7 linked regions of the Homo sapiens genome follow. The protein of the gene in region 1 purifies or fractionates together with the protein of each later gene. This does not show direct contact. Each region holds a gene or a part of one and is shown on either strand. Other genes may lie near its edges. The genes, in order: WAPL, MGA, EPB41L4B, DEF6, CAMSAP3, WDR48 and GCN1.

Region 1 (3,500 bases):
TAGCAGTAGTTCTGGTGTGTTAGTTAAATGGCTAATAGTGGCTATTTATGCATATCAGCCAGTAATAAATCCTCAGCCTGCCTATTCATCTGGTATGTGGAGAATTCATTTTTGTTGCCTTCAATTTTTACTATCAGAACATTTTTACAACCTTTCCAAATGAGATACAAATATGATTCCAACTGGTATTATTAATTCCCTCAACATTTACTTGTAGAAAAACACTGACAAAATGTATACCCTATGCCAAACAATAAAATTACTTCTACAAAATACATCTACATTTAAGAAAAGCTATTTACAAATCTCAATTAGCATCATCAAATACAGGTGAGAGGGATGCTTTACATGGACAGATTCACTGCATAATTTTTAATTCTACCCAATAGGTTTTCCTGCCCTCAAGACAGGATCTCACTGTCACCCACACTGGAATACAGTGGTGTGATCACAGCTCACTGCAGCTTCAGAGACCTCCAGGCCTCAAGTGATCCTCCCACCTCAGCCTCCTGAGCAGCACTCCCAAACAGCTGGAACTACAGGTGTGCACCACCACACCTGCCTAACTCCCCTTTTTATTTAACAGACAGGGTCACACTACGGTGCCTAGGCTGGTCTTGAACTCCTGGGCTCAAGCAAACGTCCTGCCTCTGCCTCCCAAAGTGCTACAATCACAGGCATGAGCCACCACGTCCAGCCTCCAAAGGGTTTTAATGTAATTTAACAGGTTAAGATTTGGTAATATCTTTTAAAACTAAAAATGTACATGTGAAAGAAAGGACTTACTCTTGAAGCCAGCAGTTTCATTTACAAGTATTTAGAAATAACTTTCCACGAACACAAAATTACATAAGTAACAAGAAACTCAATAGAACACTGTTTCCTGGTTTTTGCTTTCATAAACAATATACCAATTAATAAAGAATTAAATTACCATATAGCAACACACCTGAATACTATGCAGTTGTTAAAAAGAATGAGGCAGCTCTACATTATGTACAGATATGGATGCTCTTAGAGATGGAATGACTAAGGGATAAGGAACAAGAAAAGACTTTCATACTTCTTGAATTTTATACTGCATGTAAGTTGTCTATTCAAAAGCCAAAACATAAAAAATGCCAAAATTGTATATTTTTGGAGTCCTTATCTGTTAAAAAAATATATTTATGAATCAAATACAACATCTTGAATTTACTTTAGTGAGGATAAAAATGAAACAAGACTGGCAATGAATTGTTTGTTGAAGATTAAACAGTTGAACTGTTTAATGGAGATGGAGATACAAATAGACATTATTTTTGTAGACATAAACACACAAATGTATACATCTGTGTAACTGTATACTAGTCTATACACACAAATATATACAGACTTCCTTTACCCTCTTATAAGAAAATGAAGATACTTCCTTTGATTTCTTACCAAACCCATCATTACACAGATGAGAAAAAAAGGCCCAGAGGGGCTAATGACTGCAGAGGTTCTCAATTAAATCAATAGTCAAAAGAGACTTCATAAAAAAGACCCATACCAAACTATATTACACTACGTCTAGTGGTGGCTGCTAAACACTAAAATGCTAGGCCAGGCGTGGTGGCTCATGCCTGTAATCCCAGCAGTTTGGGAGGCCAAGGCGGGCGGATCATGAGGTCAGGAGTTCGAGGCCAGCCTGGCCAACATGGTGAAACCCTGTCTCTACTAAAAACACAAAAATTAGCCAGGCGTGGTGGCGGGCGCCTGTAGTCCCAGCTACTCAGGAGGCTGAGGCAGGAGAACTGCTTGAACCCGGGAGGCAGAGGTTGCAGTGAGCCAAGATCATGTCACTGTACTCCAACCTGGGCAAAAGAGCGAGACTCTGTTTAAAAGAACAACAACAACAAAACTAATTCACTGGCTGGGCGCGGGGGCTCACACCTGTAATCCCAGCACTTTGGGAGGCTGAGGTGGAAATAGCAAATGTTTATCTCACGGTGTGCTGAGGACTAAACTTAAACAATGCCTTTAACCTGTAAGAAATCTGTGCAAATGATACAAAGTGGCTTGGAGACCATAACCCATGAAATACAGTTGAGGCAACTAGAAAGGTTTAATTGGTGCAGGGATGGAAGAAAACTGCCATTACATGAAACCTGCCTTTAAATATCTGAATGGCTGTCATGATAAGAAAACAAACTTCGCCGGGTGTGGTGGCTCATGCCTGTAATCCCAGCACTTTGGGAGGCCGAAGCGGGTGGGTCATCAGGTCAGGAGATTGAGACCATCCTGGCTAACACAGTGAAACTCCGTCTCTACTAAAAATACAAAAAAATGAGCCAGGCGTGGTGGCGGGCATCTGTAGTTCCAGCTACCCGGGAGGCTGAGGCAGGAGAATGGCGTGAACCCGGAAGGCGGAGCTTGCAGTGAGCCAAGATCACACCACTGCACCACGGCCTGGGTGACAGAGCAAGACTCCATCTCAAAAAAAAAAAAGAATACACACATGAAAAATGCTTATCATTAGTTGCTAGGGAAACACAAAAGGTAAATTCCTTAATATACCAAGAATCCTTACACATCAGTAAGTCCAATGTCCCAGTAGAAAATGGCGCTAGGGGCCAGGCACAATGGCTCAGGCCTATAATGCCGGCTCTTTGGGAGGCCGAGTCAGGCAGATCACTTGAGGCCAGAAGTTCGAGACCAGTGTGGCCAACATGGTGAAACCCTGTCTCCACTAAAAAGACAAAAAAAACCCAGCCAGGCGTGGTGGCACATGCCAGTCGTCCTCGCTACTTGGGAGGCTGAGGCACAAGAATTGTTTGAACCCAGGAGGCAGAGGTTGTAGTGAGCTGAGATAGCACCACTGCACTCCAGCCTGGGCAACAGAGCAAGACTCTGCCTCAAAAATAAATGAATAAATAATAAGCCAAGAACACAAAGAAGCAATTCATTAAAATATATATCTATAATGAATTAAATAACTTATGAAGGATACTCAATTTCACTCACAATTAAAACTCAAAGTAAAACAAAGCTGAACTATATTTATATAAGCCCTCGGTATGTGCCTGGTAGTATTCTAAATACTTTCTATTAATTTATTTTATCTCAAAGCAACCATCAGGCCAGGTGCGGTGGCTCACGCCTGTAATCCCAGCACTTTGGGAGGCAGAGGTGGGCAGATCACGAGGTCAGGAGATCGAGACCAGACTAGCTAACACGGTGACACCCCATCTCTACTAAAAAATACAAAAAATTAGCCGGGCGTAGTAGCACACACCTGTAGTCCAAGCTACTTGGGAGGCTGAGGCAGAAGAATCGCTTGAACCTGGGAGGCAGAGGTGGCAGTGAGCCCCGTCGACAGAGCGAGACTCAGTCTCAAAAAAAAAAAGAAAAAGGAATAACAGGGACATAGCAGTACGTGCTTATAGTCCCACCTAGAGCTACCCAGGGCACTGTGGCCAGCGGTTCATTTGAGGCTGCTGTTATGATCACACCTGTGTGAGTAGCCACGCACTCCA
Region 2 (3,500 bases), on another chromosome or scaffold:
TTGGTTAGACTAGGAGTTGATCTTAAAGTTGATTATTAAAATCTAAGCAGAGCACAGGTGTTTTGTATCTCCTCGCAGTGGTGGAATACCTACTACCATTCAGTGATGCTCTTTGGAAATAATCATGGTCACATTCCTTAAAAGTGTAAGCCAGAAATCCTCTTACAGTTTAACAAAAAATAATTTCTGAAACATCAACAATTGTTAATGGAATTTAAAAATTCTCTTAAGATGTCAGATTAAGTTTTTTTTCATTAGAGAAATTGTATAGGCCTTAGCTGTGTTTAAAGAAAGAGTGGATCAATTTTCAATAATACCACTATTTGTATTCTAGGCCTTCAGTGAAATTCAGGGACTAACAGATCAGGCAGACAAATTGATAGGACAGAAAAATCTCCTGACTCGAAAACGGAATATTCTGATACGGAAAGTATCGTCTCTTTCAGGTGAGATAAGTAAATAATCTCTGGTAAAGAGCATAATTATAGCTTTATCAAGAAGAAATCCTCAGTAGATCTTTCAGATACTTAATTGAAAGCTTGGCTCCCACAGTTTACAGCACAGTTATCCTTTGACTGGGTGGTGGGTTGTTTCTTGTGAATTGTAATCACCTTACTTTCCATAGTTTTTGGGAATATAGTTAAAGCAACTAGATTTCTGTTGACTCTGTTTCTCATTATGTGGCGTAATGCTGAAAGTGCTAATGTATTCTGTTAACTTACAGGTAAGACAGAAGAAGTGGTCCTGAAGAAGCTAGAGTATATTTATGCAAAACAGCAAGCACTAGAGGCACAAAAAAGAAAAAAGAAGATGGGATCAGATGAGTTTGACATATCTCCCAGAATTAGCAAACAGCAGGAAGGATCTTCTGCATCATCTGTAGATCTTGGACAGATGTTTATAAATAACAGGAGGGGGAAACCTTTGATTCTTTCCAGAAAAAAAGACCAGGCCACAGGTAGGAGGGACATTCTTCGCTTTCCTTAATGTAGATATACATCAGTTGACTTTAGTGGACTGACCACCTTCTCTTGTCCACATTTTTAGTTTTGTGTGGTTTTTTTTTTTTTTTTTTTTTTTTTTTTTTGGAGACAGCTCTGTCGCCCAGGCTGCAGTTGCAGTGATGTGATCTCAGCTCATTGCAACCTCCACCTCCCAGGTTCAAGCGATTATCTGCTTCAGCCTCCTGAGTAGCTGGGACTACAGCGAGCACCACCATGCCCAATTTGTTTTTTTAATTTTTTAGTAGAGATGGGATTTTGCCCTGTTGGCCAGGCTAGTCTCAAACTCTTGACCTCAAGTGATCCACCCGCCTTGGCCTCCCAAAGTGCTGGGATTACAGGTGTGAGCAACCACACCCAGCCCACAGTTTTAGTTTTAATTAAATGAATTAAAGATGGGTTGTATAAAAAGTAGAATATTAACTACATTCGATTTTGGTTTCTGGTTGTAATACACACTCATGCAAATCCTGAGAAGTTACCAGTCCTGGTAGCATATTAGTCTATAGTCATGTATTTTTAATGAGTAGTTTTTTAAACTTATCTTTTCAGACTTATACTTGACTTCGTGATTTCCCTGCAGTTCTACTGATGGGTTTAAGAAGTTGGGTCTAGCTGAGACCAATAAATGGGAAATTTTTTGTAAAATTTAATTTTGTCAAATCAGGCTCTATTTTTCTTTCTTCCTTTTTTTTTTTTTTTTTTTTTTTTTGAGACAGAGTCTTGCTCTGTTGCCCGGGCTGGAGTGCAGTGGCGCGATCTTGGCTCACTGCAAGCTCCACCTCCTGGGTTCATGCCATTCTCCTGCCTCAGCCTCCCCAGTAGCTAGGACTATAGGCGCCTGCCACTACACCCGGCTAATTTTTTTTGTATTTTTAGTAGAGACGGGGTTTCACCGTGTTAGCCAGGATGGTCTCGATCTCCTGACCTCGTGATCCGCCCACCTCGGCCTCCCAAAGTGCTGGGATTACAGGCGTGAGCCACTGCGCCTGGCCATCAGGCTCTATTTTTCATCAGATCACTTACTTATTAATACATTACTATTAAGAAACAGTAGGCCGGATGCGGTGGCTCACGCCTGTAATCCCAGAACTTTGGGAGGCTGAGGCGGGCAGATCACCTGAGGTTGGGAGTTTGAGACTAGCCTGACTAACATGGAGAAACCCTGTCTCTACTAAAAATACAAAATTAGCCAGGTGTGGTGGCTCATGCCTGTAATCTCAGCTATTTAGGAGGCTGAGGCAGGAGAATCACTTTAACCCGGAAGGTGGAAGTTGTGGTGAGCTGAGATCACACCATTGCATTCCAGCCTGGGCAACAAGCACGAAACTCTGTCTGAAACAAAACAAAACAAAACAAAACAAAAACCCCAAAGTAAATTAGTCTTAACTTCTTATTACCATCTTGATTTTGGAAGTAAAGTTATATTGATTTTATGTGTTACTTATATTCTTAGAGAATGGTATATCTGGCTGGGCGCAGTGGCTCATGCCTGTAATCCCACCCCTTAGGGAGGCAGAGGCAGGAGGATTGCTTGCACTCAGGAATTTGAGACCAGCCTTGGGCAACATGGTGAAACCCTGTCTCTACTAAAAATACCAAAATTAGCCGGATGTGGTGGTGCACACCTGTAGTCCCAGCTACTTGGGAGGCTGAGGCAGGAGAATCACTTGAACCCGGGTGGCGGAGGCTGCAGTGAGCTGAAATCACACCACTGTGCTCTAGCCTGTGTGACAGAGTGAGACTCCATCTCAAAAAAAATTAAAAAAAAAAATGGTATATTCTTTTTTACTCTTTAAATGTTTGGATAGCCCAGTGTATGAGCCAAAAAAAATCTGGTGTGGGTATTTTTTTTTTTTTTTTTTTGAGACGGAGTCTCGCTCTGTTGCCCAGGGTAGAGTGCGGTGGCGCAATCTAGGCTCACTGCCAGCTCCGCCTCCCAGGTTCACGCCATTCTTCTGCCTCAGCCTGCCGTGTAGCTGGGACTACAGGCGCCCGCCACCACGCCTGGCTAATTTTTTGTATTTTTAGTAGAGATGGGGTTTCACCGTGTTAGCCAGGATGGTCTTGATCTCCTGACCTCGTGATCCACCTGCCTCGGCTTCCCAAAGTGCTGGGATTACAGGCGTCAGCCACCGCACTTGGCTGTTTTGTTTTGAGAAGGGCCTCACTCTGTAGCTCAGGCTGGAGTGCAGTGTCTCGCTTGCAGCCTTGACCTCCTGGGCTTAAGCAATTCTCCCACCTCAGCCTTCCTAGTAGCTGGGACCACAGGTGCACACCACCACACCCGCCTAATTTAAAAAAATTTTTCTTGTAGAGATGGAGATGGGGTCTCACCATGTTTCCCAGGCTGGTCTTGAACTCCTGGGCTCAAGTGATCTGCCTGCCTCAGCCTCCCAAAGTGCTGGGATTACAGGCATGAGCCACCACACCCAGCTGAATGCCTTTTATCTATAACTAATTTCTGATCTTTCTTACAGAAAATACCTCACCCTTGAA
Region 3 (3,500 bases), on another chromosome or scaffold:
AGGGTGTGTGAACAGTTCTGGCACAGTGCTGGCCAACAGAACTTTCCAAAATGATCCTGTGTCCTGTGTCTATATTGTCTAATATGGTAGCCACTAGCCACATGTGGCTTCTTGGCCGCTTGAAATATGACTAGCGATACTGAAGAATTACATTGTAAAATTTATTTCATATTCATTAACTTAAATTGCCACGTGTGGCTAGTGCCTACTGTATTGAACAGCACAGCTCTGACTAAATGTCAGTTATTAACAATTTTGTTATTAGTTCCATTTTATCAATGACCAGGTGGGGGTCAAAAGAGCTTCAGTTACTCACCTTAAGAAACGTGGGGATGGGACACACAACCTAAGTTTCTGGACTCAAATCCACTACTCTATTCGCATACAAGAAAGAAATCACAGTTGCCCTCCTTCAGAAGACGTGATCCGTGTTGCAGAAATGGCTCCCTACCTGAATCTGAAGCGAGAGCCCAGCCTGATAAAGTCGGATCTATTGGATTTGCTGTTTCCTGGCGTCCGCAGTCGGAAGAATGCGTGGTGCTCAACTGCACACTTCCAAAGGTGTTTGCAGGTCCTGGCACTGTCTAACCGGAACACAAACGTGTGCTCTTGCTCACGTCCCTTAAAGAGGAAGCACAAGGGCCTCGAGTGGGCGTTTGCAACCCCAACACAGGATTTTCACAGCAAGGGGGAAGAAATGGGAGCCAGGCCTACCTGATCATCATCCTCGACCACCACGAGTGTCAATTTGCTCTTTTTAAAATCCATTTTGGTAATTTTAGGCCTAGTCAGACAGAAAGCATTTTAAAAGCACAATCTGCAGTAAAACTATCTACACATCAAATAGCAGTTTCCTTTCTACTTTTAAAGCTTAGACTAAAAAAAAAATAAAAACATTCATCCAAGTGTGATTATCCAGAAGTTTCAGCGCAACTGCCACAGACCCACAACAGCAGCACCGTGTGCTCTGAGGATGAATCTGGGTGTTGCAGATACCCCTCAATAATCATCCATCACATAGAATTCCACCACAAAATAGGAAAAGACATTTTTAATATTAGACAAAACTAAATTACCAAAAGAATAAGCCTATTTTGTTAGCTCCTTCAAAGATTAATATGCCTGTCGGGGTCAGTCCAAGAGAATATTCACAGCCATCTCTTCCCTACAAACAAACGAAGTGACAATCGGTAGAGGGTTCTAACAGGTCGTCACACAGCAGAATGCAAAATGCAAAAACAGTTTCCTCACCACAAGTTATTTTGTTTGCATAATGTTCATACATTTTTCAGTAACAGCAAAACCAAATTACTTAAACGCACACAGTTCTTACCCTGACAACGTGCATGTCTACCCCATACATTTCCAGCCACTTCGCTTTATTCAGATAGGAGAGTTCCGCCTGGGCAGGGCTCTTTCCCCTTAGAAAAACCAATGGAAATACATGTAAACTGCGACTCGTAAGCCCACAGGATTCTGAAGGGCACGGCCTTACTATGGAACGTTATGCAGCAATTAAAGCAATGAGGGATGCCAAATTATAGTAATACAAAAAGATTCCCAAGACCTTACTGTTAATTGACTAGAAAGACCACAGAACAGGCTGGGCGCAGTGACTCACGCCTGTTATCCCAGCACTTTGGGAGGCCAAGGTTGGTGGATCACTTGAGGTCAGGAGTTCGAGACCAGCCTGACTAACATGGTGAAACCCCATCTCTGCTAAAAATACAGAATTCGCTGGGCGTGGTGGCACATGCCTGTAATCCCAGCTACTTGGGAGGCTGAGGAAGGAGAATCACTTAAACCTGGGAGGCGGAGGTTGCAGTGAGCCAAGATCCAAGATCGTGCCATTGCACTCCAGCCTGGGCAACAAGACTGAAACTCCATCTCAACAACAACAACAACAAAATCACAGAACAGTGCTTACAATATGATCACTTAAGGAAACAACAAAACAAGTTGTATATGTAAATGCAAAAGGAAAAGACTACAGGCTGCCAATGATGGCTTCCTGCAGGGAGGAGAGTGGATGTGTAAGTGTGTGGGTGGGGTGTGCCATACCCGCAGACATTTACGTTGTTTCAGTGTTACACAATGAGAATGGACTAATGCCACCTTCCACTAAAATAGTCACAGGAGCTTTTCAGAATGACTGAGGGATAAGAGAAAGTCATGCTAAGCTCCAGAGTCCAAGGGTGACCTGGAGGAGGCAGTGTTTGGGGAAGATGGGATGGGAGGGAGGAAAGGTTAACATCTAGGAAACCCGTGAGTGAGGGGTGGCGTTGGTAGTCCAGGCATGAAAGTGGTGCCTGCAGGGGGAATGGAGGGAAAAAACAAAGGGGATAAATGACACTGCTGGATTTAGGTATGATGATCACACTTCCTGAAATGTAACACTGTACAGCACACGGTCTCAAATATGTATGTTCCTATACAACAGGGTATATTTCTAAATTTAGGGCTTGTTTCAGAAGGTTCAGGCCCTGAGGTCCCAGAGATGCAGGTATGTGAGAGTGCCTGGGATGCCCTGGGGTGTCACTAAGACAGTGGTGGCTCCCCCATCCGCAATAAACAAATCAGAACCAGGCTCTGTTTGCAGAGAGAGAAAAGGAGTGTGGTTTGGTTCTTGCTGCACATCTCTTAAGAGACAGACGGCCAGGTGTGGTGGCTCCTGCCTGTAATCCCAACACTTTGGGAGGCTGAGGTGGGACAATCACTTGAGCTCAGGAGTTTGAGACCAGCCTAGGCAACGTGGTGAAACCTCATCTCTGCAAAAAATAGAAAAATGAGCCAGGCATGGTGGTATACGCCTATAATCCCAGCTGCTCGGGAGGCTGAGGCAGGAGGATTGCTTGAGCATTGGGAGGTCGAGGATTCAGTGAGCCAACATAGTGCCACTGCACTCTGGCCTGGGCAACAGAGCGAGACTCTCTCAAAAATAAAAAGGACAAGATGTGGGCCTTTGGAAAAACAGGACTGACACAAGGAGAGAAGAGTTGGCGCTGCAGTTTTATGGCCATCAACAGAACAATTCTACTGGTAGATAAAGGAGTGTGATCAACACTTATTTATGACAAAATAGATACATCAGAATGCTAGACGGTTGCATCAAGGTACCTGCACTCTTTCCATCTCTGGAAGATATCAAATTCCATTGCTTCTGTCTGATTTGGAATGAACCGAAACTCAGACACAAGCTCTGGTGTGTGTTCTGGAAGCTCGCACTCCCCAAGCTCCGCTGTAAGTTTCATAAAAGGGAGGAAAATAGGAGACATTGAATGATTTCAGTTATTGCTGCAACCAGGTCCAAAGGCATTTTGCATCATTATAAAGCACAGCCCCCCGCCCCAATGTATAACTCTCTCCTTTCGGGAAGACTTAACTCTCACTTGGGTAGTCATATGTACACTCAAAATCCTAGAAGCATTCTAATGTCCTCCCTGTTGGGTGATACAGCATCATCCTAGTTATTACTGTCTTTCTCTCCACTGTTGTTCCCA
Region 4 (3,500 bases), on another chromosome or scaffold:
TTGAGACTTTGCCTCAGTGTCCTCCTGGGGCTCAGTTTTCCTTGGCAAACTGGGAAGTGGGAGATCCCAGGAAGGGAGTATTTCCTTTTTTTCCCTCATTTCCCTCTGGGCAGTTATCCCTGGAGTTTTTGGTTATGTGAGCCAATAAATCCCCTCTCCCTTAAGCCATTTGAGTTTGGTTTTATCACTAATTCCAGGAAAGTCTTGCCTAACACATCTGTGGTCATAGAATACCAATCCCCACTCTAAGGGGTGCCACTGGCTCAATGCCTAGCACTTAAAACCCAGGGTGACCACCTCAAGAGAATAATGCCAACATCCACTGACCACTTCTGAAGTGACAAGTGTTCAAGTTTTATATATTCTCATCTGCTGTCTCTTGGCCTCTTTTCAAACTACCCGTGTCCTTATCTTTTTTTGAGACGCGTTCCAAATCTGCCGCCCAGGCTAGAGCGCAGTGGCGCGGTGTTGGCTCACTGCAACCTCCGCCTCCCAGGTTCACGTGATTCTCCTGCCTCAGCCTCCTGAGTAGCTGGGATTGCTGACGCGTGCCACTATGCTCGGCTAATTTTTGTATTTTTAGTAGAGATGGAATTTCGCTATGTTGGCCAGGCTGGTCTCAAACTCCTGACCTCAGGAGATCTGCCCGCCTCGGCCTCCCAAAATGCTGGGATTACAGGGCGTGAGCCACTGCGCCCGGCCACCCCAGCATTTCTAATCATCCAACCTACAGACACTCATGGGAGAGATACAAGAATGCTCATTAAGCATTGTTTATAATATGAAAAAATGGAGACAAACTGAGGCTCTTCCAGTAGGAAACAGGTATACCATGTCAGGAACCACTGTATGTAGCTGGAAAGATTTCACTTTTCCCACTTGTGTGCTCATGGGCAAATGTTTAATTCTCCAACACCTTAGTCTCCTCCTCTGTGAGGATAATGATAGGGTCTGCTCCAAAGGCTGTTTTGAGTGAAGAGTACCTGGTGCATAGTGCACTGCTTAATAAAAGTTGTGGGTGATCTTTGTTATGTTTATATGAACAGACATTGAAAGATATGCATACTACACTGGCATGTAAAAAAAGCAAGCTACAGAATGAAATGTTTGTCAAATACATGTGCAAAGATTAGGTCGAATTATATGAAACTAGTATTTCAGTAGGTCAAAACAATCAAGTGTCAGAAATTTCATATGGTTCAACCTGTTTATTTGTATACAGAAAGAATCTAGAAGACTCACAAACTGTTAACAGTGATCACCTCTCCAGAGTGAGGGGAGAAACTTTCATCTTTTTTTTTTTTTTAAGACAGAATTTCACTCTTGTTGCCCAGGCTGGAGTGCAATGGCGTGATCTCGGCTCACCGCAACCTCTGCCTCTCGGGTTCAGGTGCTTCTCCTTCCTCGGCTTCCCGAAGAGCTGAGATTACAGGCGCCCGCCACCATGCCTGGCTAATTTTTGTATTTTTAGTAGAGACGGGGTTTTGCCATGTTGACCAGGCTGGTCTCAAACTCCTGACCTCAGGTGTTCCGCCCGCCTCGGCCTCCCAAAGTGCTGGGGTTACAGGCATGAGCCACCGCGCCCGGCCAACATTATATTCTTCTTTACTTCAAAATTTTTTTGGGCCGGGTGCAGGGGCTCACGCCTGTAATCCCAGCACTTTGGGAGGCCGAGGCAGGTGGATCACCTGAGGTCAGGAGTTCGAGACCCACCTGACCAACATGTTGAAACCCTGTCTCTACTAAAAATACTAAAAATTAGCCAGGCATTGTGGCAGGCGCCTATAATCCCAGCTACTTGGGAGGCTGAGGCAGGAGAATCAGTTGAACCCAGGAGGCAGAGGTTGCAGTGAGCCGAGATTGTGCCATTGCACCCCAGCCTGGGCAACAAGAGTGAAACTCCATCTAAAAATTAAAACAAAAACAAAAACAAAAAAACAAATTTGGCCAGGCGCAGTGGTTCACACCTGTAATCCCAGCACTTTGGGAGGCCCAGGTGGGCGGATCACTTGAGGTCAGGAGTTCAACACCAGCCTGGCCAGCATGGCGAAACCTCATCTCTACTAAAAATACAAAAATTAGCTGGGTGTGATGGCAGGCGGCTGTAATCCCAGTTACAGGGAGGCTGAGGCAGGAGAATTGCTTGAACCTGGGAGGTGGCGGTTGAGGTGAGCCAGGAAGGATAGTGCCACTGCACTCCAGCCTGGGTGGCAGAGTGAGACTCTGTCACACACACACATACACACACACACCCCCACAAAAAAAAAATTACCACTAACATGTTTTAATTTTATAATAAATTCATTTTTATTTTTGTTTATTTATTTAGAGACGGGGTCTCACTCTGTTGCCTAAGCTGGGGTGCAGTGTCACGATTTCTGCTCACTGCAGCTTCCGCCTCCCAGGCTCAAGCGATCCTCCCACTTCAACCTCCCGAGTAATTGGGACTACAGGCATGTGTCACCATGCTCAGCTAAGTTAAAAAATTTTTTTGTAATACCAAAATTAGCCGGGTGTGGCGGCACACTCCTGTAGTCCCAGCTACTCAGGAGGCTGAGGTGGGAGAATTGCTTGAGCCCAGGAAGTCAAGGCTGCAGTGAGCTGAGATCGTGCCACTGAACTCCAGCCTGAGTGACAGATCCAGACCCTGTCTGGAAAAAAAAAAAAAAAATTCTTTTTTTTCATAGAGATGAGTTCCCATTATATTGCCCAGGCCATGGTGGCTCATACCTGTAATCCCAATGCTTTAGGAGGCCGAGGCAGGAAGAGCCCTCCTGGGCTCAAGAGATCCTCCTGCCTCGGCCTCCTAAAGTGTTGGGATTACAAGTATGAGCTACCACAGCGCAGCCCCGAATTTCTTCATTAACATTATATTCTTCTGTGTGTTTTCTTTTTTTAAACCAGGAGAATATATTGTCTTTAGGATAAAATTTAAAACAATAGGGATGAAAAAGGGTGCCATTAACCCAGTTATTAATTTGCCCTATTAAGTTGCTCTATAATAATATTCTTTTGCTGTTCACTGTTTGTGTGAGCATTTCTGGGTGTTCTACATTCCTTGAGGGCAGCAATGACTCTAATCTCAACCTTGACTCCAAAGATAGTATAATGTCCCCCATTCACTGAATGTTTCTGACTGACTCCTAAAGTCTAACTCAAATGCTCCAATGGTTTCCCATAATTTTCAGAGTAAAAGTTCGAGTCCTTCCACAGGCCTCCAGGCCCCATGTGACCTGGCCTGCTGCACCTTCTCTGACCTCATCCCTCTTGTTTACTTGCCTCCAGCCATTCTGCCTTCTTAATGTTCCTCCAGCAGGTCAGGCATATTCTTGCCCAAGGGCCTTTGCACTTACTGTTCCTGCAGCCTGGAATATTTCTCTCCAGGTCACTGCATGGCTCAAACCCTTTCCTCCTCCCTGTTTTTACTTAGATGACACCTTCTCAGGGAATATATATTCCCTGACCAGGTGGAATATCCTCTGATCACCTTATCTTTTGAG
Region 5 (2,971 bases), on another chromosome or scaffold:
CCTCCCGGCACCCCTGCTTACATCTCCCTCCCCCTCCCCCCTTACCCATGGGGGCCTCACCCAGTGAGCCCCGGAAAGGGCACTGGGCAGGCCCCGTCCCCCAAGGGTCCTCACCCAGCAGGCCGCGGGCTGGGCTTCGTGCCAGGGCTGAGTCGTCACAGCAACCCGAGCGAGGCCGGGTGGCCCTCCGCCCGCCCCGACCTGGACCCCCGGACCCCGCAGCCCGGGGCCGCAGCACCTTATCGAGGTCGTCCATCAGCTTCAGCTGGGCCCGGCGCTCGTACTCCTGCCGCGTGAAGTCCCCCTTCCGGGGGCCCACCTCCTCCTCGGCTGGAGCCCGGGCAGCAGGGGCTGGAGTCGCCATCGGGACTGCGGACACAAGCGGGGCTGGGCCCGGGGCCTCCTCTTGGGCCAGCCTGCAGATCACAGGGAATCGGCATCAGAACCGCTCACGGGGTCCGCGGTGGCAGACAGGCCAAGGAGCGGGCGTCCCGGGCAGGCCCGGCCTCACCTCGCGGCCTCCTCCCTCCGCTGTTCCTTCTCCACCTCCTGCCACTGCTTGCGCCGCCGCGCCTCCTCTGCTCGCCGCTGCTGCCGCTCCAGCAGGCTGGCCCGCTTTTGGGCCATCTCGTCCTCAGGCTTGTCTTCATCCTGGGGACAGACGCCGAGTCCAGCCAGCCACCCCCTCCCCCAACATGGCTGGAGGCCCATCTTCCCTCCACCCAGCCTGCCCGCCACCCACCTGTGCTTTTGTTTTCATCATTGTTCTAAATGCACTTAGTTGGTGCCTACTGTATGCACAGCCCCACACTAAGTACTGGGACACAACAGGGATGGGATACACTGGGTGCCGCTCACACACACACTGCTTAACCCAACGGGGAAGACAAAAGCAGCAGACAGCAGTGAGTGCCAGCAAAAGCTCGTGTTGGGCACAGACACTCTACACTGCGGGAGGACCCCGGCCTGGCCTGGAGACACCCAGGAAGGCTTCCCAGAGGAAGTACCCTGTAGAATGATCAGGATTTAACTAGGTGGGCGTACAGAGCAGAGCGTTCCAGGCAGAGGGGACAGCTAGTGCCGAGGCCCTGAGGCTGGAGCAAACCTACTGGGGGGCACGGAAGTACAAGGGGGCCAGTGTGGCTGGGACACAGAGCTGAGGACAGTGGCGCAGGACTAAGTCAGAAGTGAGTACAGGCCAGACGCGGTGGCTCACACCTGTAATCCCAGCAGTTTGGGAGGCCAAGGCAGGTGGATCACTTGAGGTCAGGGGTTCGAGACCAGCCTGGAGAAACCCTGTCTCTACTAAAAATGCAAAAATCAGCTGGGCGTGGTGGCATGCTCTTGTAGTCCCAGCTACTCAGGAGGGTGAGACAAGAGAATCACTTAAACCCAGGAGGTGGAGGTTGCAGTGAACCGAGATCATGCCACTGCACTCCAGCCTGGGCCACAGAGCGAGACTCTGTCTCAAAAAACAAAAAACAAAAGAAAACAAAACAAAAAAAAAAAATGAAAAGGAAGTCCTCCCCAGGGCTTTGGGCTGTGCTCACTTTTTTTTTTTTTTTTTTTTTTTTGAGATGGAGTCTCGCTCTGTTGCCCAGGCTGGAGTGCAGTGGCACGATCTAGGCCCACTGCAAGCTCCACCTCCTGGGTTCACGCCATTCTCCTGCCTCAGCCTCCTGAGTAGCTGGGACTACATGCGCCCGCCACCACGCCAGCTAATTTTTTGTATTTTTAGTAGAGACGGAGTTTCACCATGTTAGCCAGGATGGTCTCGATCTCCTGACCTCATGATCCGCCTGCCTTGGCCTCCCAAAGTGCTGGGATTACAGGCATGAGCCACTGCGCCCGGCCACCCTGGGGAGGACTTTCATTCTAAAAGCAAGGGTAAGGGGAGCAGTCAAAATCCCCGACCACTCAGTGCAAAATGGCCCGGGATGGAGGCAGGCAGCAGAGGCCAGTCAGGTAACCCTAGGTGTCCCCGGCTGGGAAAGCCATGGGAATGGAGAGACAGTGGACACAGGGCAGGGCCAGGAAAGGGGTGGTAGGAGCGTGCTGGGGGCGAGGGGGTGAAGGAGAGGATGAGCAAGGAGGTGCGCTGAAGATCCTGGTCCTGTCCGTCTATCTGTCCATCACCCACCCACCCATGCAACCAGCCATTCATCCATCTGTCTATCCATGACTCCTCCCTGTTTCTCCACCCCTCCCCACATCTATCTATCCCCCTTGTCCGGCCACCCATACCTTGTTTGGGAGGGACATGACTGGGTCAGCCCCCACTGGAAACCCCTCACCCCCAAACATACCCGAGGGCCTCACTCATTAAGCCACAGGGGGAGGACCTCTCACCCCACTGCACCCCCACAGCCCCTTGTGGAAGTCCTTACCCAACAGACAGGGTCAAATCCCATCTGAGGCCCCTGTCACCCCACATACCTGCCCCCCACCGTGCAAATGTCCCTTTCCCCCCTCTCCCACCCATGGAGGCCTTACCCAGCCACTCACACCTGTTCTGTCCATTCATACCTGGCTCCCCATCTATCCCCCACCCGCCCACCCATCCTTCAGTAAAGCCCTATTCATCCAATAGTGGGTTTGTCCACCTCCCCCCGCCCCCACCCGCCCCCGCCCCAGGCCCAGGACCCTCCAGCCACCTGCTCGGGGACTCACCTTGTAGAAGAACCCCAGCCCCACCCGGGGCTCCCCCTCCGAAGACGCCTCCTCCTCCAAGGAATCCTCAGCACCAGCGGGGCTCCCGTCTCCCTCGTCCTCGGCGGCGGGATCTGCCAGGCTGCCCAGCGGGATCTCGATGAGGCCCGGCCGGGCGGCTGGCTCCTCGGGGGGCGTCTCCTCCGCCAGGAGGATGGAAGAGCGCGTCTGCACGGGCACCTGGCTCGGCGAGAACTTGCGCAGGTGGGGGAGGCTGTCTACGTCGTGGGGTGGCGTAAGCACCCTGGTCAAGGGTGCCAGC
Region 6 (3,500 bases), on another chromosome or scaffold:
CAGTGGCAGCTCCAGAACTAATTGAGTGTTTCAAGAAGAAGCTTGCGGTTAGTGGCATTAACCTGCTGTGAGTTGATTTAAGATGTGACTAACATCATGGATTTAAATAAAGAGGGTGGCCTCTGGGTAGAGTCTTAAGGGCAAAAGCCAGGTAGAGTGAGTTGAGTAGTGATTTGAAGGTGAAGAAACAGAAAATTTGACTGGATAATCTTTGAAGAAATTTGATTGGAGGGGTAGGCAGGAAGCGGCGGAAACTAGAGAAGATGTAGGAGTCAGAGGGCCAAAGGAAGCTTTTGATTTTGTTTGGTTTTGTTTGGATATTTGGGTATTTTTCAGATGTAAGAAATTTGAGCATATTTCATTGCTCCTGGGAAGAAGCCAGTAGAGACATTCATGGGTAGATGACAATACAAGGTCATCCCAAGAAGCAAGAGGTGAGGGGGACCGGAGCACAGTCAGAAGGGACACCGTTTTCCTTGCACCAGGGAGAATGATAGAGAAAGTTAAGGGGATTCTGTCAAGGCTTCTCTTTGTTTTGAGAAAAAGGAATCAGAGTCATGTGCTGAGGATAATGGGGAAGGTGGCAAGGTCAGAGGTAGAAGAGAGATTTAGTTGAGATGGACTGCAAGACAGTGACCCCAGGGCTCAAGTCTCCAGTAAATGAGGGAGAGTGGCAGGTTGCTAGATGGCAGTGAAGGAAAGGTGTACCGTTTACTGTTGCTAAATGACATAGGCCTCAGAGAAATAAGTTTTTACATGGGAGATGGTAGAGTAATGGTCTCCATGGAGCATCAAGGAACAATGGGATGTGGGAAAATAAGCAGTCCCCCTTTGAGAAGATGGCCGACAACTGGGACCCTCGAAAGAGCCACGTTGCTGTTAAGATGAGGTGGTATATTATATCAATATCAGCACAATTAAATACAGTTTCTTCCCAAATACTATTTTGTGCTTTTTTAATTTAAATTTTTTATAGCAGCAGATTGTTATTTTAAAAAAGGACCACATTCTTTTTGAAATGTATTTTAGACTGTTTCACTTAGACACATGTGAAAATATGTAAAATTTTGAATAGCAAAGTCAGAATCAAGTGAATTCACCACTTAATATTGATCATTATACTTTCTTTTGATGTATAGGCATGTAAAGTTGAAGATCTGGGCAAAGTGGATTTTGAAGATGAAATTAAGAAAAGATTTAAAATGGTGTATGTGCCAAATTGGTTCTCAGTAGACTTAAAAACAGGGGTAAGTTAGCAATTGATACTTGTATGATTTGGGATAATTGAAGATTTTCATTATAGCTTATAATTATTATTAGTTACAGAGTCCTGTGTTTTTAGGTGTGAAAAAAAAAATTTGTGTTAAAACTTAAAATGCAAAATGGAATAAAAAAGAAAAAAACAAAATTAAAAATATATTAAAAAAGAAAAAAATTTAAAAGTTACAAAATGCCTTTGGTATCCCAGGAAACTAAATTGTGTTGTTGCATTGAATCACACAAAACACATTTTGGTTCCTGAATTTATGACTTAGCACTTTAGTCAAATAGTACAAATAAATGAAGGTTTAGAGACTTGTTTGGAGAATATATTCAAATGGGATGCCACTAAGTTTTTTCTTTTGATAGATGTTAACTATTACTTTGGATGAAAGTGATTGTTTTGCTGCCTGGGTTTCTGCAAAAGATGCTGGTTTCAGCAGCCCTGATGGGTCAGATCCAAAATGTGAGTTTAAGTGTCCTTCATTTTTTTCCTCCCTTCTAAAGAGAAGATGAATATGAGCTGTTTTTTGCTAAGTACTTATCTTTGTAAAAGTTCTCTATATTTTGTTGACTATGTCCTAAAAATGTGGTATGTACAAATACCTAATGTATACAAATCATTTTAGTAATTTCATATGGAAATAGCCGTTTAAAGAATCTGATTCTCGGCCAGGCGCAGTGGCTCACACCTGTAATCTCAGCACTTTGGGAGGCCGAGGCGGGTGGATCACGAGGTCAGGGGATCGAGACCATCCTGGCTAACACGGTGAAACCCCGTCTCTACTAAAAATACAAAAAATTAGCCGGGCGTGGTGGCGGGTGCCTGTAGTCCCAGCTATTCGGGAGGCTGAGGCAGGAGAATGGCGTGAACCCGGGAGGCGGAGCTTGCAGTGAGCCGAGATTGCACCACTGCGCTCCAGCCTGGGTGACAGAGCGAGACTCTATCTCAAAAAAAAAAAAAATCTGATTCTCATGTTTGTTTTTAAATAATAGCTGTATCTGAACAACCAAGTAGAATATGTCTTTGCTCCATAGCATCATTGCTTTAAACATTCTAAGATAAAATTTTAGCAGAATTGGCAAAATGACTAAAGTCTTTATTTTAGACATCATTCGCATTGGGTTAAGAATGTAACATCAGAATATGTACAAACTTACAATTTTTATTCTATTTTTAGGTTAAAGCCAAGTAACTCGCTTTTCCATTTTATCTCTTTTTAATTAACTTTTTTGCAGTGAATTTAGGAGGACTTTTACTCCAAGCACTCCTGGAATATTGGCCTAGAACACATGTGAATCCAATGGATGAAGAGGAAAATGAAGTAAACCATGGTTAGTTTTTATATTCAGATAGTTGCATAAAAAGTTAGAGGTACTTACTTAAAAGGTACTTACTAAAAGGTACTTACTTAAACCGTTAGCTAAAATATTTGTGGTGTACTCAGTTTATTGTCCTCTCTTCCATATCTCAAAGTAGGAACATCCATCCAGTCTTAACTGAGACTGAGATTCCAAAAGAGCAGACCACCTTATGATATGGCTTTTAGTGAGACTGCTCAAGATAAATAAAATACTCTATATTCAGATGACTTTTGTCTTAAAATGAGGCACCTTAACAGACTTATTTCCAAAATATTCTTCAAGGTACCTCTGATCTTTTGGATTAACCTCCAAAGCTAGGTAGTTAGCTGCATCAGAAAGCCAGGTTTGTCATTGCATAGTCACTCTTCATGTTGGGCTGAAATGTTGGTATTTCCTAGTCTCATGGCCTACCTGATTTTGACTCTGTTTCAAAAAAAAATTCAAATTCCAACTCAGAAGTGACAGGGCATATGCTCAAGCATGTGTAAAGAATTAATGTCACTGAGGACATCTGAAACGTGTGTGTGCCATAGGCAGTGGCAGTAACGTTCCCTGAGCAGCAGAGGAGAACATGTTTTGAATATATGCATTTGGCTCAGTTTGATCAAAGGAAGGGGAAACAAGAACTTAGAATTTCACATCCTCATGTGTAACCTACAGCTGGTTGAGGAATCATTGAGTCCCATCGACTGAGGCTTACTCTGCTGAAGATTCTCTGCTGGCCACCAGGAGTGAGCAACAATGGCGAGTACCTCCTGCCAGGGACTTTGTTCTGGCTGTCAGATTCACCCATAATGATATGTGGAATTTAAATCTCTCACATGAGGATGACATGCTTCCTTGAAAACCAGTCTTCTGATGTTCCTGTCAGAGAG
Region 7 (3,500 bases), on another chromosome or scaffold:
TGACCAGCAAGCAGAAGGAGATGCTGCAGGCCCAGCTAGACAGGGAGGCGCAGGTCCGGAGGCGGCTGCAGGAGGTGAGTGGCCACCTCCGCCACATGCTCAAGCCGGAAGAGTGCTGGGCAGCTTGGTCCTGCTGCTTGCTGTCACAAGCAGGGCCCTGCTGACCTGCCTTCTGGACAACTCTGCTTGCAGCTGGATGGGGAGCTGGAGGCGGCGCTTGGACTGCTGGACATCATCCTGGCCAAGAACCCGTCCGGCCTGACCCAGTACATCCCTGTTTTGGTCGACTCTTTTCTGCCCTTGCTGAAGTCTCCCCTGGCTGCTCCCAGGATCAAGAACCCCTTCTTGTCCTTGGCTGCCTGTGTCATGCCCTCTAGGCTCAAGGCTTTGGGTTAGTCCTTGTTTGCTGGCTGCAGGGATGGCCCAGGGGTGCCCCTGAGTGCTTGGACAGGGTGTGCCCCTGAGTGCTTGTGGGGAGGTGGGTGGTGACCTCAGCTGCTGAGTTTTGTTTTCTTGTGGAAGCAGCCTTGGAGACTCAAGCTGGATATGCTTAGGAGAGACGTAGTGCCTCCTCTTCTCTCCCACTTCACATCTGTGCCCTCCCTCTGAGGAGTAGGTTTTAGATGCTAGTCAGTGTTCGATCTTTGTATACCAGTTTTAAAACTAAGAAGTCAGAAGTTCAGTGGCAGTGAGGATGGTTTGGTGGCTCAGCCCAGCCCAGATCTCCTGAACAGCCACATGACAGCAGTGAGCAGAGGCCCTTGAGACCTTTAGCTTCCTCTTAGCTCTGGAGAAACAAACACCAGGTAGGGTGGCTGGCAGTTCTGGTGGCCTTGCTTCTGTGGGTTGTTTAGTGGCCTTCAGCAGACTTCTATCCTGGCCTAACGGTGATGTTCCCACGGGTGAGGCTAGAATCTGGGAACTGTTCTGAGTGGAAAAGTCAGCTGGTGCATATGAAACCTGCCAGAAGTGTCACCTGGCTGTCTGGGCTTGTTGCGTAGAGGTGGAGATGCTGCACAGATAGAGCTGTACTCTTGGCTGAATGACTCTTTGGTGGCCCTTGTCTCCTGTCAGCGTACTCATTTCTTAAATGTCCAAAGGGCAACTCTCTGCCTACCTGCCCTCTGAGGCTGTCACAAAGATCAAGTGAGAAATTAGGCTGGGGACATTTTGGCGAAGCAGAAAGATTTTTTTTTTTTTTTTTGAGACGGAGTCTTACTCTGTCACCCAGGCTGGAGTGCAGTGGCGCCATCTTGGCTCACTGCCAGCTCCGCTTCCCGGGTTCATGCCATTCTCCTTCTTGAGCCTCCTGAGTAGCTGGGACTACAGGCGCCCGTCACCACGCCCAGCTAATTTTTTGTATTTTTAGTAGAGATGGGGTTTCACCGTGTTAGCCAGGATGGTCTCAATCTCCTGACCTCATGATCCGCCCGCCTCGGCCTCCCAAAGTGCTGGGATTACAGGCATCAGCCACCGCGCCCAGCCGCAGAAATATTTTTTTAAGTCAGAAGGATGAGGCACTGGGTCCCCTGTTTTAGCCTGGGCTGGATTCCACATCTCTGTGTGTCATCTCCTGCTGGGTCTCTCCTCTTCAACACAGGCACTTTGGTGAGCCACGTGACCCTGCGCCTGCTGAAGCCAGAGTGTGTCCTGGATAAGTCCTGGTGCCAGGAAGAGCTGTCGGTGGCTGTGAAGAGGGCGGTGATGCTGCTGCACACCCACACCATCACCAGCAGGGTGGGCAAGGGGGAGCCAGGTAAGGGCTGGGACGGGATCAGGGGCACCAGGCGGTGTGAGCTGGTGCCAGGAATGCTGCTCAAGGCACAGCGTCACCCAGGGCCTCCTGAGCCTGGGGGATTGGACCATATGGAGGATTTCTGAATTGAACCTTCGTAGTCTGTGAATTGCAGTGAGCCCAGTTGAGGGTTTACTTTTTGTCACTGGTGTCCCCATCTCTGTTTTAACTCTCACATCCTGGAACTGGGCAGTGTTTGGCAGTAGAAGCAGAATTGGTTTTAGAACTGGACTACCAGCTGCTGTCTCTGTCCTCGTGCCATGTGCTTCCAGGTGTCAGAACGGGCCTCTGGTCCATCCGTTCCCTACTTTCCCTGAGGATAGAAATAGGCAGCAGTGGCCCGGGTCCCTGCCCTGCCTGCAGAATCTTATCTGCTTCTCGCTCTCACAGGTGCTGCGCCCTTGTCCGCGCCAGCCTTCTCCTTAGTCTTCCCGTTTCTGAAGATGGTGCTGACGGAGATGCCCCACCACAGTGAGGAGGAGGAGGAGTGGATGGCCCAGATTCTTCAGATCCTCACTGTCCAAGCCCAGCTGAGGGCCTCCCCCAACACCCCACCCGGGCGGGTGGACGAGGTTGGCAGGGAAGCTCTGCTCTCCTCTTGGTTTAAAGGGGATCAGGGAGGCAGGGCCTGTGGACACGTTTTGTCTCATGAACAGTTCCTGGTGGGGAAATAGAGAGTGTATGTTTATACCAACAGCAGCCTCACACAGTGTTGTGGGTTTTTTAAGGCAAAAACGGGTCAGACTGCTTCTTTCATGTGATTGTAGACTCTGGCTCTCCTGCCATGCCAGTACATGTCAGTTCACCTGATTGACTTTGTTGGCTGCATGAGATTCTGTGCTATGGATGTACCATGTTTTACTTAACTCTTTACCTGTTGATGAGTTCTTAAGGTTGTTTCTAACTTTTTCCTGTTTTGAACAGCACTGTGATGTGCCCTCTTGTATGTATATGCCCCTTACTTAACCAGTGTGAGCATTTCTTTAGGACAGGTTCATTGGACATGGAATTACTAGATTATATGGCATATTCTGAGCTATACTCTCACCAAGAGTTTTCTTTTCTCAAAGCCTTAATGCAACCTCAGATAGTATTAATATCGTCAGTGATGAGTGAAAGAATGATAATCTCATTTTATTTTGCATTTCATTTAAAGTTGAGTGTCTCTTCATATATTTACGGTCTTTCTGGATTTCATAGTGTGAATTTCAAGCAAGTTTCAGAATTTAGTTTTTAGTTCCTGAGGATCATGGTTGACTGGGGTTAGCACCTGTGGACCTAGTTGTAAACTTAATGAGGTTTCTGTGGTGGGGCCGGTTGTATGATCCAGAATGTTCCCCCGTGGGTGAGAGGATGCCCTGCCGTTGGCCGCCTGGGTTACAGACCTCCCCACAGCCTCATCTCGACTTACCTGCCGTTCTCTCCTAGAATGGCCCGGAGTTGCTGCCTCGCGTGGCCATGCTGCGTCTTCTGACTTGGGTGATCGGGACGGGCTCGCCTCGCTTACAGGTGATGTGGTTTTCAGTTGGCTGTTGCTGTGACTCAGTTCGTGACCCAGACCTCAAGTCCCAGTGTAAAGGGTGGAGTCCTAGTTTCCTTTCAGCCCTTACTTTTGGACTTTGGTAGAAAGACTGCTTTAGAGAGCCAGCCTGACTGTTGTTAGCTAGTGAGGGGTTTTGCTTGGGTCCTGCCACTGGAGCTGGGG

Evidence for each region.
Region 2: the proteins of WAPL (region 1) and MGA purify together in Homo sapiens (affinity purification with mass spectrometry, with the first as the bait; one large-scale study listed by BioGRID). This does not show direct contact.
Region 3: the proteins of WAPL (region 1) and EPB41L4B purify together in Homo sapiens (affinity purification with mass spectrometry; one large-scale study listed by BioGRID and IntAct). This does not show direct contact.
Region 4: the proteins of WAPL (region 1) and DEF6 purify together in Homo sapiens (affinity purification with mass spectrometry, with the first as the bait; one large-scale study listed by BioGRID). This does not show direct contact.
Region 5: the proteins of WAPL (region 1) and CAMSAP3 purify together in Homo sapiens (affinity purification with mass spectrometry, with the first as the bait; one large-scale study listed by BioGRID). This does not show direct contact.
Region 6: the proteins of WAPL (region 1) and WDR48 purify together in Homo sapiens (affinity purification with mass spectrometry, with the first as the bait; one large-scale study listed by BioGRID). This does not show direct contact.
Region 7: the proteins of WAPL (region 1) and GCN1 purify together in Homo sapiens (affinity purification with mass spectrometry, with the first as the bait; one large-scale study listed by BioGRID). This does not show direct contact.

Annotation. Positions count from the first base shown.
Region 1 is NC_000010.11:86,501,293-86,504,792, forward strand, and holds part of WAPL (wings apart-like protein homolog), read right to left. Parts: intron 1-3,500. UniProt on the Homo sapiens protein: Regulator of sister chromatid cohesion in mitosis which negatively regulates cohesin association with chromatin. Involved in both sister chromatid cohesion during interphase and sister-chromatid resolution during early stages of mitosis.
Region 2 is NC_000015.10:41,761,405-41,764,904, forward strand, and holds part of MGA (MAX gene-associated protein), read left to right. Parts: intron 1-334; coding exon 335-446; intron 447-724; coding exon 725-958; intron 959-3,481; coding exon 3,482-3,500. UniProt on the Homo sapiens protein: Functions as a dual-specificity transcription factor, regulating the expression of both MAX-network and T-box family target genes. Functions as a repressor or an activator.
Region 3 is NC_000009.12:109,255,060-109,258,559, forward strand, and holds part of EPB41L4B (band 4.1-like protein 4B), read right to left. Parts: intron 3,239-3,500; coding exon 3,118-3,238; intron 1,422-3,117; coding exon 1,334-1,421; intron 1,166-1,333; coding exon 1,077-1,165; intron 785-1,076; coding exon 715-784; intron 622-714; coding exon 452-621; intron 1-451. UniProt on the Homo sapiens protein: Up-regulates the activity of the Rho guanine nucleotide exchange factor ARHGEF18. Involved in the regulation of the circumferential actomyosin belt in epithelial cells.
Region 4 is NC_000006.12:35,304,318-35,307,817, reverse strand, and holds part of DEF6 (differentially expressed in FDCP 6 homolog), read right to left. Parts: intron 1-3,500.
Region 5 is NC_000019.10:7,612,863-7,615,833, reverse strand, and holds part of CAMSAP3 (calmodulin-regulated spectrin-associated protein 3), read right to left. Parts: coding exon 2,671-2,971; intron 652-2,670; coding exon 512-651; intron 417-511; coding exon 115-416; intron 1-114. UniProt on the Homo sapiens protein: Key microtubule-organizing protein that specifically binds the minus-end of non-centrosomal microtubules and regulates their dynamics and organization.
Region 6 is NC_000003.12:39,083,016-39,086,515, forward strand, and holds part of WDR48 (WD repeat-containing protein 48), read left to right. Parts: intron 1-1,139; coding exon 1,140-1,247; intron 1,248-1,629; coding exon 1,630-1,726; intron 1,727-2,499; coding exon 2,500-2,595; intron 2,596-3,285; exon of another isoform or gene 3,286-3,369; intron 3,370-3,500. UniProt on the Homo sapiens protein: Regulator of deubiquitinating complexes, which acts as a strong activator of USP1, USP12 and USP46. Enhances the USP1-mediated deubiquitination of FANCD2; USP1 being almost inactive by itself.
Region 7 is NC_000012.12:120,156,716-120,160,215, reverse strand, and holds part of GCN1 (stalled ribosome sensor GCN1), read left to right. Parts: coding exon 1-74; intron 75-192; coding exon 193-391; intron 392-1,600; coding exon 1,601-1,756; intron 1,757-2,185; coding exon 2,186-2,367; intron 2,368-3,223; coding exon 3,224-3,304; intron 3,305-3,500. UniProt on the Homo sapiens protein: Ribosome collision sensor that plays a key role in the RNF14-RNF25 translation quality control pathway, a pathway that takes place when a ribosome has stalled during translation, and which promotes ubiquitination and degradation of translation factors on stalled ribosomes.